2 linked regions of the Homo sapiens genome follow. Changing the gene in region 1 together with any one later gene gives a genetic interaction. Each region holds a gene or a part of one and is shown in the gene's direction. Other genes may lie near its edges.

Evidence for each region.
Region 2: of UTP20 (region 1) and ATG10, changing one suppresses a phenotype caused by changing the other (phenotypic suppression), as found in Homo sapiens cells (one large-scale study listed by BioGRID).

Annotation. Positions count from the first base shown.
Region 1 is NC_000012.12:101,286,558-101,290,387, forward strand, and holds part of UTP20 (small subunit processome component 20 homolog), read left to right. Parts: intron 1-2,402; coding exon 2,403-2,484; intron 2,485-3,579; coding exon 3,580-3,717; intron 3,718-3,830. UniProt on the Homo sapiens protein: Part of the small subunit (SSU) processome, first precursor of the small eukaryotic ribosomal subunit.
Region 2 is NC_000005.10:82,055,520-82,059,349, forward strand, and holds part of ATG10 (ubiquitin-like-conjugating enzyme ATG10), read left to right. Parts: intron 1-2,975; coding exon 2,976-3,083; intron 3,084-3,830. UniProt on the Homo sapiens protein: E2-like enzyme involved in autophagy. Acts as an E2-like enzyme that catalyzes the conjugation of ATG12 to ATG5. ATG12 conjugation to ATG5 is required for autophagy. Likely serves as an ATG5-recognition molecule. Not involved in ATG12 conjugation to ATG3.

The DNA of each region.
Region 1 (3,830 bases):
TCCCTGGCTTCTTTATGACTCCAAACCACTTTGCCAGCTCAGTGCCTAATTGTTTCCATGTACAAAGTTGATTCTCCAGCCAAAGTGGTCCACAATCTAGTCTGCCAGTCTGAGTTGCCATGACCATCTCTCCTCTCCAGCTACTGGAAGTATACCCACCCAAGAAGGCCTGACTCGGTCCCTACAGCCTCCACAAACAGGCACCTTTGCCAGAAGTATTAATAAAATTTTGTACTCTCTATCCTCTTGGCATTTTTTAACCACCTATGTCACACAACTTTTACCAGAATTGTTTGGTTATAATGTATTGCTGTCCTCTCTACACCTGGTATAAGGGAGGTTTAAGACAGGTTAAGAGCCCTGTTTTAAACACTGACATTTCCCCAGCCACTAATACTTACTAAGGTGAAAGAGACACTCAGTATTTGTGAGTAAATGTGGACAAGGAAAGAGAATGAATTTTGTAGTAACCTTTTGTTTAAAGTAAGCATAAATTGTCTTATTATCTGTTTAAGTCTGGGGTTTGGTGGGATTTTCCACTTGGTCTTCCGGTTGTTTTCATGTTCTATAATTGCCACAGGAGTGTTTAATATCAGTCATCAGCCCCTTACCCCACAGTAAATGGTGTATGCATGGTATGGGACAATAGACTTTGTTTTATGCCACCCGTTTCACTCAGCCCACCGTTCTCTTTTAGGAACTTTGAATGAAGAAAGAGAAAGAAATCTTTTTCCAGCCTTTACTAGTTCCCTATGAAGCTTTTGGTCAAATATGTTAGAAACCAATATTATTTCATTAAACAACCAACAAGGTCTTTGGGGAATAATTGATTTAGTTTTATGACTTCAGCTGTCATAAAAGCTGCCACTTTTATGTCTCCTAAGTCAGGCTCTTCAGTTCTAAATTTATTTGCTTTCGGTGTGACAACTTCAGTAGCCTGGCTATTTTCACTTGTATTACTGAAACTGAACTCAACACTTTCCTGTTAAATCAACTCCTCTTATCTGTACATTCATTCAAGTGTTCAGTAAATAGGTATTGAGTGTCTGCCGTATGCCAGGCCCTGTTTGGTTGCCCATTTTCTGTCATTAATACTAACGTTCTTCCTGTCTCTGAGTTTTGGAATATCAGAGGCATCACTAACCCAGTTGTCTTCAGAGGTGTCCACATCCTCTTGATTCTGTCATTCATGCATTTGCTCAGTCAATATTTATTGGACACTGTCTGTATGTCAGGCACTTGAGATACAGTCACAGATAAAACAGATAAAAAATGCTCTTCTCACAAAGTTTACATTTTAGCAGGGGGAGAATGTCTTGGGCACATGCCCGGGAGAAGTTTTAGGTGGCCGAGCAGCCTGTATAAGGGTGAGACTAGCTAAGTGATGTCAGAGAAGCAGTAGTAAGGCGCCAGATCATCCAGGGCCCTGTGGACCGCTGTAAGGTCTTCAGCTTCATTGTGGGCACTCCTGAAATGTCTACTGGGTTCATCCCTTGCCATTTTGCCTCTCCTTCCAGTCTCTTTCATGCCTGTTAGCCCAAGCTTGTATGACTTGAGCACCTTTCTGACTGAATTAGCAGACTCTTCTTTCCTCCTTTATTTTATCCTGTATATTGCTGCCAAATTAGTCTTTCTGAAAATGGTCATTTCTCATTCAGCCAACATTTATTAGTACCTGCTGTCAGCAAGGAACTATTAGGTACTGGGGTTATGAGAAAATTGGAGAGATATATTCCATACCCTTCTATCATTAGGGAGACCAAATTTAACAATGTGATTATATATAAGTAATTATTTAGTTATAGATGCATGGCTGCTTGACCTTGAGCAAGTTGCTTATGCTTTCTGCCTCACTTTCATTATCTGTAGAATGGGAGGATTATAATAGTACCCATCCCATAGAGTTATTGTGCTGATTAAATGGCGTAACACAGAGTAAGTGCTTATACAGATGTAAGCTAGACCTGTCTACCTGACCAACTTTATCCATAGCTGCTCTCCTCTACTGTATCATCTTTCCTCTTTTAGATGGACCAGCCTCCTTGTCATGACCATGATCATTTCCACCTGCCTCATCTTTGCTCTTGCTTTTATACCAATAATATGGACTGCAGTCCCCACCTAATTCTTCTTTCATTCAGAGCTCATTACAAATTTCAACTTTTCCTGGAGTCTTGTTTGTAAAACCAGTACCACCAGTCCTAGGACTCTTCATGTCTGTGGTCAAGTCTTCCTTTCAACATGTGGGTGTCTCCATAAATGAATGAGATTTTAAATTTGTTTGATACCTGCTGTGTATTCCTTGCATACCCAGCACATTGTTGCCCATATTGTTGACATGTAGTATGTATTTATTACAATTATATGATTAATGAAATGTATCTTATTTTTTTCATGTATAGCATGTACAGCACACTCCTGGCTCATAAAAAACTACATATAAGAAATTTTGCTGCTGAAAGTTTTACTTTTTTGATGAGAAAGGTTAGTCTGGTATTTTATCTGTTTGTTGCTAATCATCAAGAATCTGATGAATAGGCCAGGCGTGGTGGCTCATGCCTGTAATCCCAACACCTTGGGAGGCCGAGGCAGGTGGATCACCTGAGGTCAGGAATTGGAGACCAGCCTGACCAACATGGCAAAACCCCGTCTCTACTAAAAATGCAAAAATTAGCTGGGCGTGGTGGCGCGCACCTGTATCCTCAGCTACTTGGGAGGCTGAGACATGAGAATTGCTTGAGCCCAGGAGGTGGAAGTTGCAGTGAGCTGAGATCACACCACTGCACTCCAGCCTAGGCGACAGAGCAAGACTCCATATCACACACACACACACATACACACACACACTAGTAATAATAATAATAATAATAATCTGATGAATAGAAGTAGATATCTTTTAAAAATGTGGTTATTATGGGCTAATTTTTTCTATGTATCTATATATATACTTAACAGAAATCTGTTACTATTTTGAATTTATCTCACAGTAAGACTTATTTGTTGCTCACAAATTGATGTGATCTAATTTGGGTCACTATTGTATTGTTATTTAGGTTTGTGATAGCTTTCAGTGTGTATATATCAAAAATGCTCTCTAATTCAAGTCAGTAAATACATGAACTGTGACATTAACAAGAACTTTTCTAATAGTTTCCTGGAAGTAACTGGTAGCATGGTGTCATTTGTGTTTGTATAAAATATTCATAGTAAATTTTAGAGGGTTTTTGTAATAAAACAAAAACATTAATATTAAATTTTTTATTTCATAAAATACAAATATTTTACTGTATACAATACAAAATACAAATGTATTTACTTTAAAAGATAGAATGTTGACTTCTGTAGTTTTTTTTGTAGTACATATCTTCCTGTAATACCAATGAATTCACTCTTTTGTGTGACATTCCAAGTGAGAACACACTATTAGAGTAGTTTGAAATCATTACAAATGTCTGTTCTTTTCACAATTTTTTCCTAAGTATATTTAAATAACAATATATAGAATAGCAAATGAGAGTTCTTCATTTGGATATGTTTATGTTTGTGAATATAATTTTCCATTTCTACTTTATATTTTAGGTCTCTGATAAAAACGCACTTTTCAATTTAATGTTTCTTGATCTTGATAAACATCCAGAAAAAGTTGAAGGTGTTGGACAGTTGCTCTTTGAAATGTGCAAAGGAGTTAGAAATATGTTTCACTCCTGTACAGGCCAGGTACATAATGGGGAGGGGTGCTTAGAGTCTATGTGGATGGATGAAACAGAAAGTAGAAAAGAATGAGGCAAATGATGTGGAGGGAAGACAGCCTAGAGTACATAGCACTAGAT
Region 2 (3,830 bases), on another chromosome or scaffold:
TATGTTCCCTTAAGAGGAGGTTATGTGACCAGGGCTCAGGTATTGAAAAATACAAAATAGAGCAGTTACCCTCATTTAATGAGCTATATTTAGTACACACAGTGCAGCTCCGTGTTCTCTGAATATCCTGAGAGTTTTGGTTTTTATCTCTATGGCTAGATCATTTTGAAATTGCAGACTTTGGGTAATTTTTCTCTCAAACACATGCTATTATAGTTTTACCGTATAGTCATGCTGCATAATGACATTTCGGTCAAGAACAGACCACATGTACAGTGTTCCCATGAGATTATAATACTGTATTTTTGCTGTACATTTTCTTTGTTTAGATATGCTTAGATACACAAATACTTACAAATTTTACACAAATTTTGTTACAATTGCCTGCAATTAATACAGTAACATGCTGTACAGGTTTGCAGCCTAGGAGCAAGCAACTATGTCTATAGCCTACGTATGTAGGAGGCCATACCATTTGGGTTTGTGTAAGCACAGTCTATGATGTTTGTACAATGACAGAATAGCCCAATGACGTGTTTCTCAGAAGGTATTCCTGCCGTTAAGTGATGCATGACTGTATATGGTAAATCTTTTATATAATCAACTATTGATTATCTATCTCAAGATTGACAATACAATAGAAATCTTCTATTTTTAAACTAATAAACACAAATTTATGTTACTTAATAGCAAAATTATTTTGGTTGCAAGTGACAGAAAACCCAACCCATTGGGTGAAGCAAAGAAGGGACTTTTTGGGGCCATGTAATTGAAAAATCTGAGATAGAACTAGTTTCAGATATGGTTGGTGTAAATAATGTAGTCAGAATGTGGTTTCTCTGTATCTCATGGTCTTGCTTTCCTCTGAGTTGCAGAGCCAACTTCGTTTAATTACATGATGGCTGCCAGGTTTTTTTTTTTTTTTTTTTTGTGGTCTGTCTGGCTCAAACCTAGTGGAGAAGAGAACAGCCACCTTTCCCAACCCCCCAAAACCAAATCCTGAATTTCATCCCATTGGCTGTGATGTAGATCATTTGTCCTCCAGAGTCTCTGGGGCCGGCAGTACTGATGGGCAGGATCAGAGATCTGTGTCTATCCCTGGAGCTGTAATCATTTGTCCTCCAGAGTCTCTGGGGCCGGCAGTACTGATGGGCAGGATCAGAGATCTGTGTCTATCCCTGGAGCTGTAATTAGTGTAACAGTAGCCAATGCTCCTCTAAGGAACCATTCCCTTCTCAATCAGGAGAATTGAGGAGCAATTGTTCCTTAGAGGAGCAATGACTACTGCTCCAAAAGAAGGAAGAATGGATGTTTGATGTGAAACAGTGGCAATGACAACAGTCATTACATATATCTTTCTCAGTTTAAGCCAATGTTAAATTTACATTTTTCTAAATACGAAGGTTTCAATGGTAGAAGACCATTACAGGATCTGCTTTGTGGTCAGATAGTGTAGAGCTGGAATTTAAAACAGTAATTCCATCTACAAAATGGATATCCTTAATGAAATAATTAAAAATGACAGTATTGGATATCTGATGGCCTACTTTCCAGGCAGGAATGATATTAAAAATATTTAGCAACCTGTGACAGAGGCATCAACCAATCAGAATGAGTTGGATCTAACCAATCAACAACTAACCAGTGCAGCCCCCTGAGTGAGAGCTGGCTGTTTGTCAGCACAACTTACTGGGAGGCATTCTTAAGGTGCTGTCAAGTGTCTTAAAAAATAGAGTTACTGTATTAGTTTCCTAGGAATGTTATAACAAGGAACCACAAACTGGGTGACTTAAAGTAACAGAAATTTATTCTCTCACAGTTCTGGAGGTTAGAAGTCTGAAATCAAGATGTTGGCAGGGTCCTGCTCCCACCAGAGGCTTTAGGGAAGGACCATTCCTTACTGCTTCTAGCTTCCAGTGGCTGATGGCAATCTTTAGCTCCTAGATGCACCGCTCCAGTCTTCATCTTCACATGGCTTTCTTCCCTGTTTGTGTCACTGCATCCAAATTTCCCTCTTCTTATAGGAAGATTAACCCCTTAGTCCTTATTATTTTAATTCTATTAAAATGTAAATGTTGGTATGACAATGTGGTGGGGAATTAATATTTATTGGCATGTATGTTTGTTCTTGGGGAGGTATTATATTCTTACACATGACTTTATTGAATTCAAAAAAGTGTTACCTTAAAAAAATGGAACTGGCCACAATTAGATGAACATCATTCATTAGTGTATTTAAGAGCAAGTACAAGAAACAGGAGACAAATACTGGTAAAGGGCTCAGAAACCATATTTTGTAAGGAGTATTTGCAAATGGTGGTCATTTCTTCAGCGCTTGGAAGAACAGCTGTGTGGAAAAGGGATTAGACTTCAGAGGGCAGAACTAAGTAAGTTAAAGGATGTGAAATACAGGACAAAACTTTCTTAATGTACAATGCACTAAAATGGAAATGACCGCTGTGTAAGGGAGTAACAAGGGCCAGTTCCTGGAGGTACTCAGGCAGTTGCTGAGATGCATAAGTACCTTTCTGGGACATTTTCATAGAGATCTTGCCTTGAGAAAGAAATTGAAATGGAAGCTTTCTTGCAGCTTCAAGATCTATTTCAAGTCCTAAAATTGTTCTCTATGTGTATGCCATGAAAATCAATATTAATTATGTGACAAGCTATTTCTATAAGCTTAAGTTTTGTTCTGTGATCTTGGTGCTATGGACTAGTCAGGAAAAAAGGGAAAGGTTTAATCTAGGAGGGTGGAAACATCATTAATAAATAAGAGAGGTAGGAGAATAAAACTTGCATTTATTGAGTACTTACTACGTACAGGGTGTTGGACTAGTCTCTTTATCCATATAGTCTCATTTAGTACATTTAGTTTTTCACTGATCAGTTTGGAACTTATGGGAAGTGGTTCTTAAAATGATGAATTCTTAAAATAATTGGCATTTTCTTATATATTTTTTGGTGATGAAACACAGGACTGTTCTGATGGCTACATGTGCAAAATACACTTTCAAATTAAGAATGGGTCTGTGATGTCACATCTAGGAGCATCTACCCATGGACAGACATGTCTTCCCATGGAGGTGAGTAGTTTAATGCATCATGTTCTTTTCAGTCTCCGTAAAGTATACATTTAAAAATGTATACTTTAATGACTCCATCGCATTCCATCCTATGGAAGCACCACAATTATATGGCACTCATATTGAAATAAAATACTTTAATTCTGTTAAGTAAATATTTTAAAAACTTCAAACTTCTTCCCACTGGAGAGAGATCCAATTGCCATTGGATCCTGGGCCTGTTGTAGGGGGAGAAGGAGGTATTTTCCTTTGTAATACTGAAAGCAAGAATTGTGGTAAAGTTATATAAGATCCACTCTGACTCCAGATTGTAGTGAGCCGTCATACTTTTGGTTTCTCTTGGACCTGAATACCACAGATGCCTTCTGTTGTCTATTGATTTTTTTTTCCAAGTAAAATTCCCTGAATATAGCCCTAGCCCCAGGCTGCTTAATACTTGATTGGAGACCTCTTTGCCTGCTCTGCCTTTAGCCCCTTTTCCCTTGAAAATATGCTGGATCTGGGTCTTATTCCTTAGGGGACTTTAACCTTGACTTGAAAATCTTGCTGAACCAAATTTTATTATGGTACTAATGACTGAGTGGTTTTCTGAGATATTTTCATTTTTCTTTTTATCGAAATGCAAATAGCCTTATTGTATTTCTTGTGAAAAAAATTGTATATACCCATTGTAAAAATAAATAATAGAGAAATATATAAAAAGGATTTAAAAATATCCCATATGTCCTTCAGTAGTTTACCACTGGT